Regions from separate parts of the Homo sapiens genome. Here region 2 is linked to region 1. The links come from fine-mapping of genetic effects on gene expression. A gene starts in region 1. The other region holds a variant in brackets. All regions are shown on one strand. Distances are between the middles of the regions.

Region 1 (4,392 bases):
ATAAATATTCAGCCCCAATTGTCAATAGTACAGAGACTGTGAAACGCTGCGTTAAACGTACATAAATTAGGGGCATACAAAAATGAGCTAAATTTGGTCTTACTCGCTAGGAGCCTATATGTGGGTGGGGAGAGGAGTGGGACTGGAAGAGGAAAAGGAAGATGTGAAGGTACAGTAAGGAGATATTGGACCAGGGTGAGAAAACCCAAAAAGCTCCAAAGAGTGCTCTCAAACTTGCCTTGTTCTGTCGCCTATGAACTGGCAAAGGGAAAAGTGAGAGAGAGAGAGAGATGTTAAGAAAGGGACAGGGTTGTCCCTAAGGTATGGGAAGGTGGAGTAATTCCTCTAGGCCCTTTGCTTTGGGTATATCGTGGAAAATGTTAGGATTTTGGATCTAGGCAGAACTGGTTTGACACCAACACAACCTGAATGAGTTGAGGGCTAAAAGGAAAGCTTTGTGGAGGAGGAGGAGGTGACAACTAACTAGAATCTTTATGAGAGAAAAGGAATCAACCAGGAGAACAGAAGACAGTCTCCTCCAGAGAACAGCATAGGCAAGACCCTGAGACAAGATAGAATATGATACCTTGGAAACCGCAGGGAGGAATCTGCAAGTGCCGGTTTCTTCATCAGTAACATTGGATTCGTAAAAACACCCTGTCGGGGAGAGGTATGATGTGATATTTGGAAAGCGCTTACTGCAGTGCCTGGCACCAAGCTCAGTTCAACAATCCCCCAGACCCTTCCTAAAGCAACCAGGCTGGGGACAGCGATTTGGTCCCACCTGTTCCCCTGAGCCTACGTCTTTGGGGCTTCTATTACCAAGCCAGACTGTCTAAATATTTACTACAAGCTACTTTTTAAATTCAGGAGAGGGCAGATCAAACAGCCTCTTTTGCCCCCAGTAACAATGAGCCCTTAGGAAGCATCTAAGAGAGAGGAAGGAAAGAAAGGACTGGCGAGCAGGTGAGGGTGGGGGCTTGCTCTACCCTCAACATTTACACACCATGAGGAAGAGGCCCCCTACAGCAGAGAAGGGCAGATGACAGGAGCAGCCCTCGAGGGCACCACCAATTTCAGTGATGGAAAAACTCCCCCATCCCACCCTTAGACCTCCAGTCTCCCAGCCAAGCCCTAGCTCCGGGCGAGATGCGTTCTCTTCAGAAAAACGCTGAGAATTCTCAGCTTCCAGAGACAGCGAGTCCCTCGTTTCGGGCGATGTCCCTGGCCACCTGGCGGTGCCATCCCTCCCCTGAGACTAAGCGGGATATGGGACGTGTGCAGGAGCCGGGATATGGGGGGCCGGGTCGGTGGTAACAGGGAAACGGAGACTGCTGTGGAGCAGTAGGCGGAGACTAGAGCTCCGGAAAAGGTCGCTACAGGGACGGGGGTGAGAGCTGAGAGACACCGAGTGAGGAGCACAGAGATAACCCGCCTGATCTCAAGGCCCAGCTTTCGCGAGGTGTGGAGCCTGTAGCTAACCTAGGAGTCTCCGTCCGCCAGCAATGCCGCAGGACTAAAAAGATCCCCTCAAAAATCTCTTCATTGAGCCCCCACCTCCTCGAGTCCCGCTCCGGCCGGTCGAGCAGCCAATCGCCTCGCGGGGCGGGGTTGCGGCGAGCTGCCGTAACCAATAGAGGTGGAGGGGGCGGGGCCTGGCTCCCGGCGCGCGGCGGTAGGGTCGCCTCCGGCAAAGCGAGCTGAACCCTGAGGGGAGCCGCTGACCAGCAGCATGGAGGACCCCGCCGCGCCTGGGACCGGGGGCCCGCCCGCAAATGGCAATGGCAACGGCGGCGGCAAAGGGAAGCAGGCGGCGCCCAAGGGCCGCGAAGCGTTCCGAAGCCAGCGGCGGGAGTCAGAGGTGAGGAGCCCGGAAAGCTTCGGCTGGGGCCCGGAGACGCCCGCCGGCGGGAAGCGGCGGCTGAGGTGATTCGGCCTCGGCCCCGGAGCCCTCGGCGCGCTCGATCAGCCCCGCGCAGTGGGCGCCTGCGGGGTCCTAGCGGCTGAACTCTGGGCTCTTTGGCCCGGACCAGTGTCCGCCCGTCTCCTGCCGCGGGTTGGGGGCTTTCTAGCCCTCTGGCTTTCCCCCGCTGCGCGAAGATGAGCGCGGTATTGAGCGGACCAGATACTTTCCAAATATTTATCTCACTTAATCGCTGCAGCCCCCTGAAGCAGAAATTCCGATCCCAGTTTATAGACGGGGGAACAGGAGCGGAGAGGTTAAGTGACTGGCTTGAGGGGTGGGAGGCTGGAGCTCAGCCGCAGGAAAGCAGGATTGGCGAGTGGGGCAACCGCAGTCCCCCTCCCAGGCTGCCTGCGGCGGGCCCCTGGGCCAGCCGAGGGACTTCTGCCCGTTCCCTGCCCGTCCCCTTCCCCCCGTAAGTCTTAGGCCGTTTCGGGAGCGCCTTCCGCGGACATCAGGCCCCTGCCTGTGAGGGCTGAGCGAGACGGGATTCAGGCAGGGGCAGTCCTGGAGTGGCTATCTGGAGGGAGCAGTCGCAGGATACAGATAGGAGTGTGAATATTTCGATCTCTTCCTCCTCTCCTGAAAAAAGAAACCCTATCTATGAAGATGAAAGCGTTGAATTATTATCACTTCCCTATCCCCTCATTGAGGCAGTTCCCATCAGTTGGATCTGAGCGGGGATCAGAATAGACGACAAAATATCAGATGTGGCAGGGTCTGCAGATATCATCTGGTATAACCCTTTCATTTTACAGACCTAAAAAAAAGAGGAGTGACTTGCCCAAGATCAGACATCTGGCATAGTTGGTGGTCAAGAACACCAGACTTTGGAGTAGTCAGACCAGGTTTTGACTCCTAGCCCTATCATTTACTACCTGTGTGATTTTCGGCACATTACGGAACCTCTCTGAGCTCCAGTTTCTTCATCTGTAAGATGAGATTAACACTGCCTACCTCAGAAGGTTGTGATAAAGTCAAAATGAGATAATTGACTATAAAATGTTTGGCACAGTGCAGGCACAATGCATGTAATTAGTCAGTACATAGTAACTCTTAGTATATTGCTATCATCATCATCATCATCATCATCAAGTGGCAGAGCTGGTACTAGAAACCAGGTTTTTGGCATCCCAGACCTTGCCTTACCATTTGAATAGCATTTCAGTTTCCAAAGTGATTTCATGTATGCTTTACATTTTGATGTAGGTAGAGTAGGAGGAATCCATTCATTTTTTTTCAAGGTAGAAATGGAGATGAAAAGACTGGCCCAAAGTCACCACCTTGCAGAGGCAGAGAGCTCAGCCCTCCTGTCTTGCTAGATGATACCCGCCACATCATCTCCCTCCCTACTTCAAGATGAGTCTGGTCTTTTAGGGCACCCTGTACCTCCTTCCCCCACAGAGACATTGTTCTCGTTCAAATGTTTTTTTGGGGAGATGAGCCATTCATTAATTCAACAATTATTTATCGAGGACTTTCTGCCAGCCACTGTTTTAGGTGCCAGGGATATATCAGTGAACAAGATAGGGTCTTCGCCCATGGGGAGACAAATTGTGAGTAAATAAATAAAATAATTTCAGAATGATATGTTCTATGGGGGGAATAAAAGTCTCTGCCTGGGTCTCCCTTCTAAAGTTGCAATCTGTTCCCCACCTGTCAAGTCTTCTTCAGGCAAAGGCTCTGAGAGTACAGTCCTTTGCTTTTGCCAGTACTTTGCAGTGTCCAGAGACTCGAAAGCTTTCCACCTGCACCGCGGTTTACCTGCTGATTGTCTGCAGCTGCACTCTTCATGCCTGGAAATGAACAACTGCTGCGATCATCTCTATCTGGGCTCATTGCCTGCCAAAAGCCTGGCTGGAAAGATTAGCTTTCCTCTACCTTCTGCTGCAGCAGGACTCCTTTTACCTGCCAGTACATCCCCTATTACCACAGTACCCAGGTGCCAGATCTGCTTTTCTTCTCTCCCTCTTTTTGCTTTCCTGTGGAAGGCAGTCCTTAGAGGAGATGGGATTTTTTTCCTCTCTAGGGCTTTTAGAAAATCACTAGAAGAGAATTACTGTGGCACAAGTCAAGAGAGCCTCATCGTGTATCACTGTTTATGGAAGCACTGTTGACCTACCTTCTCCCACTGGCTTAGTGTGTGAACATCCCAACCTAAAAAGGAAGCTAAAGAATAATTGTTTGCTTAATAAGAAGAGTCTTAACCTAATAAAAGGATTCACCTCAGACCTCTTTTAGCCAGATCTGGTTTATTGATCTCAAACTCCTTGACAAAGTTTTAACTGGTCTGTGGTAAAATGAGGAAAATTCAGGTCATCGAAGTGAGTTTTTCTAAAAATTTAGTTCAATATATTAAATTTAAGAATGTATACAATTTAAAACAGTGTTTTTCAAACTGCTATAGGGGGCAACCTGTTAATTGAGGC
Region 2 (4,392 bases), 350 kb before region 1:
GATCATGAGGTCAGGAGTTCAAGACCAGCCTGGCCAAGATGGTGAAAGCCCGTCTGTACTAAAAACTACAAAAAAAATTAGCTGGGTGCGGTGGCAGGTGCCTGTAATCCCAGCTACTCGGGAGGCTGAGGCAGGAGAATTGCTTGAACCTGGGCAGCAGAGGTTGCGGTGAGCCGAGATCACGCCATTGCACTCCAGCCTGGGCAACGAGAGTGAAACTCCGTCTCAAAATAAATAAATAAATAAATAAATAAATAAATTTTAAGGGATATGGTTTGGAGGGAGCTTTCAGGGTAAAAGTATAGTGACATGACAAAGGGGAGGTGACAGAATATTGTAGAGTCCTTTGTATTCTTTCAAAATAGCTTTACTGAGATATAATTGACATACAGTAAACTACATGTTTATAGTGTAATTGGATAAGATTTGACATACATATACACCCGTGAAACCATGACCACAGTCAAGATAATGAAAATAGGCCAGGCACGGTGGTTCACAGGAATCACTTGAACCCGGCAGGTGGAGGTTGCGGTGAGCTGAGATCATGCCACCGCACTCCAGCCTGGGCGATAGAGTGAGAGGCTGTCAAAAAAAAAAAAAAGATAATAAAAATAAATATCAGCCCCCAAAAGTTTCCTTGTGTCCTCCTGTGATCCCTTCTTCCTGGAAACTTCCCCCAAACTCTCTCCTCAACCCCCCATTGTCCCTTATCTGCTTTCTGTAATTATGGATTGGTTTATATTTTCTAGAATTTTATAGGAATACAATCGTACAATATTTATTCTTTTATTTCCAGTTAACATAGCTTTTATTCAAAAGTCCTTACTCTTGTCTGGTTTATTTCACTTGGTCTAATTATTTTAAGATCTATCCACATTACTGCATGTACTTTAAGTGGGTGAGTCGTACGCTATTTGAATTATCTCTCAATAAAGCTGTTACTAAAAACAAACCACAATGAGATATCACTGCGCACCCATTCGGATGACAAAAATTTAAAAAACAGACAAAAGCAACTGTTAGTGAGGGTAGGGAGAAATTGGAACTCTCATACCCTGCTAGTGAGTGGACTTGTATAATGATGCAGCCACTTTGGAAAACAGTCTGGCAGTTTCTCAAACATTTAAACATAGAGGTATCTTTTGACCCCAAAATTTCACTCCTAAGTGTATATACCCAAGAGAAATGAGAAAATGTGTCTACACAAAAGCCAGTATATGAATGTTCATAGCAGCATTATTCCTTATTTATTATTATACATTTTTTTGAGGTGGAGTCTTGCTCTGTCGCCAGGCTGGAGTTCAGTGGCGTGATCTTGGCTCACTGCAGCCTCCGCCTCCTGGGTTCAAGTGATTCCCCTGCCTTAGCCTCCCAAGTAGCTGGGATTATAGGCATGCGCCACCACGCCTGGCTAATTTTTTGTATTTTTAGTATAGATGGGGTTTCACCATGTTGGCCAGGATGGTCTCCATCTCCTGACCTCGTGATCCGCCCACCTCGGCCTCCCAAAGTGCTGGGATTACAGGCGTAAGCCACTGCGCCCAGCCTATTATTATTATTTTTTGAGACGGAGTCTCGCTCTGTCACCCAGGCTGGAATGCAGTGGCGCGATCTCGGCTCACTGCAACCTCTGCCTCCTGGGTTCAAGTGATTCTCCTGCCTCAGCCTCCAGAGTAGCTAGGATTACAGGTGCCCACCACCACACCCAGCTAATTTTTGTATTTTGTTTAGTAGAGACAGGGTTTTACCATGTTGGCCAGGCTGGTCTCAAACTTCTGACCTCAAATGATCTGCCTGCCTTGGCCTCCCAGAGTGCTGGGATTACAGATGTGAGGCACGGCAGCTGGCCAATGGCAGCATTATTTATAATAGTCAACATGTGAAAAGAACTCCAATGTCCACCAACTGAGGAATGGATAAACAAAATGTGGTCTATCCATACAGTGAAATATTATTCAGCCATAAAAGGGAATGAAGCACTGATACGCGCCACAACACAGATTAACCTTGAAAACATTCAGCTAAGTGAAAGAAGCCAAACACACACATACCAACCCCACATATTGTATGATTCCATTTTTATTTATTTTTATTTTTATTTTTTATTTTTTCAGACAGGGTGTCACTGTCACCCAGGTTGGAGTGCAGTGGCACAATCTCAGCTCACTGCAACCTCCACCTCCCGGGTTCAAGCAATTTTTCTGCCTCAGCCTCCCAAGGAGTTGGGATCACAGGCATGCGCCACCACACCCAGCTAATTTTTGTATTTTTAGTGGAGATGGGGTTTCGCCATGTTGGCCAGGCTGGGCTTGAACTCCTGGCCTCAAGTGATCCGCC[C/T]ACTTTGGCCTCCCAAAGTGCTGGGATTATAGGTGTGAGCCACCATGCCCAGCCTGATTCCATTTTTATGTGAAATGTCCAGAATTGGCAAATAGAGACAGAAAGTAGATTAGTGGTTGCCCAGGTCAGAGTGAGGGTGGCTGGGGGCAATGAAGGTGACTGCTAAAGGGTACAGAATTTCTTTGTGGGGTAATACAAATATTCTCAAATTGATTGTGATGGTGTTTGCACAACCCGTACATATACTAAAAACTACAAAATTACATATTTAAAATGGCTAATTTTTACCTATGTGAATTATATCTCAATAAAGCTGTTACTGAAAAAATGTTCACTTACTGAGGTCATTCCATTATATGAATATACTTCAGTTTGTCTAGCCATTCATTTATTGAGTCATTGGATTGGCTCCTATTTTTGGCTACTAAAAATAAAGCTGCAGACCAGTGAAGTACTCACACCTGTAATCCCAGCACTTTGGGAGGCCAAGATGGGAAGATGGCTTGAGGCCAGAAATTCGAGACCAGCCTGGGCAATATAGCAAGACCCCATCTCTACAAAAAATTTAAAAATTAGCCCAGCATGGTGGCTTGCACCTGTAATCCCAGCTACACAGGAGGCTGAGGTGGGAAGATCACTTAAGCCCAGGATTTTGAGGCTGCAGTGAGCTACGATCATGCCACTGTACTCCAACCTGAGCAACAGAGCGAGACACTATCTCTAAAAAAAATAAAATTCGGCCGGGCGCGGTGGCTCACGCCTGTAATCCCAGCACTTTGGGAGGCCGAGGCGGGCGGATCACAAGGTCAGGAGATCGAGACCATCCCGGCTAAAACGGTGAAACCCCGTCTCTACTAAAAATACAAAAAATTAGCCGGGCGTAGTGGCGGGCGCCTGTAGTCCCAGCTACTTGGGAGGCTGAGGCAGGAGAATGGCGTGAACCCGGGAGGCGGAGCTTGCAGTGAGCCGAGATCCCGCCACTGCACTCCAGCCTGGGCGACAGAGCGAGACTCCGTCTCAAAAAATAAAAATAAAAATAAAAAATAATAATAAAAATAAAAAATAAAATTCAGGCCAGGTGCGGTGGCTCACGCCTATAATCCCAGCACTTTGGGAGGCCGGGGCAGGCAGATCACAAGGTCAGGAGATCAAGACCATCCTGGCTAACACGGTGAAACCCCATCTCTACTAAAAAATACAAAAAATTAGCCGGGCATGGTGGCCGGCACCTGTAGTCCCAGCTACTTGGGAGGCTGAGGCAGGAGAATGGCGTGAACCCAGGAGGTGGAGCTTGCAGTGAGCCAAAATAATGCCACTGCACTCCAGCCTAGGCGACAGAGTGAGACTCCGTCTCAAAAAATTAAATTAAATTAAATTAAATTAAATTAAATTAAATTAAAAAATAAAGCTTCAAGCCAGGTGTGCTGGCACCTGCCTGTAATCCCAGTTACCTGAGAGGCTGAGACAGGAGGATCACTAGAGCCCTGGAGTTCGAGTCCAGCCTGGGCAACATAGCAAGACCCTATCTCTTAAAAAAAGAGCTGCTATGATTTTTATTTGTCAATTATGCCTCAATAAAGTTGAGGAAGAAAACAATAAAGCTACTATGAACATTTGTGTGCAAGTCTTTGTATGAATATGTGCTTTTTTTGGGTGAATACACAGAGGTGGAAAGGCTAGATCATATGGTAAGTATGTTTAACTTTTTAAGAAACTGATCAGCTGTTTTCCAAAGTGGTTTTATCATTTTACATTCCCACCAACAGTGTATGAGAGTTCTAGTTCCTCTGCACTCTTATTAACACATGGTTTTAATCAGACATCTAATAGGTATGCAGTAGTTTCTGATTGTGATTTTAATTTATATTTCCTTAATGTGAATAATGTTGAACATCTTTTCATGTGCTTATTTGCCATCCATTTTTTTGGTGAAATAACTGTTTAGATCTGTTGCCTACTTTTTGAAAAAAAGTTGAATTCTTTGCTCTTATTTGATTTCCAAAGTTCTTTATATATTCTGGATACACATCCTTTATCAGATATGGGCTTTGC

What was found. PIP is the estimated chance that this variant, and not a neighbour inherited with it, causes the effect. A credible set is the group of variants that fine-mapping cannot tell apart.
Region 2: its variant is the best candidate, but not a certain one, in a credible set for the expression of STRIP2 in unexposed skin (GTEx, PIP 0.89).

The regions. Positions count from the first base shown.
Region 1 is chr7:129,432,741-129,437,132 of GRCh38, forward strand. STRIP2 (striatin interacting protein 2) reads left to right here and starts at 1,692. Exons shown (of 21, transcript NM_020704.3): 1 at 1,692-1,861. The coding sequence starts at 1,733. RefSeq lists a silencer at 1,572-2,051.
Region 2 is chr7:129,084,424-129,088,815 of GRCh38, forward strand. No RefSeq gene overlaps it. Among named protein-coding and RNA genes, the nearest start is that of TNPO3, 32 kb to the left of the region's middle. The variant C/T (reference allele first, on the strand shown) is at 2,341.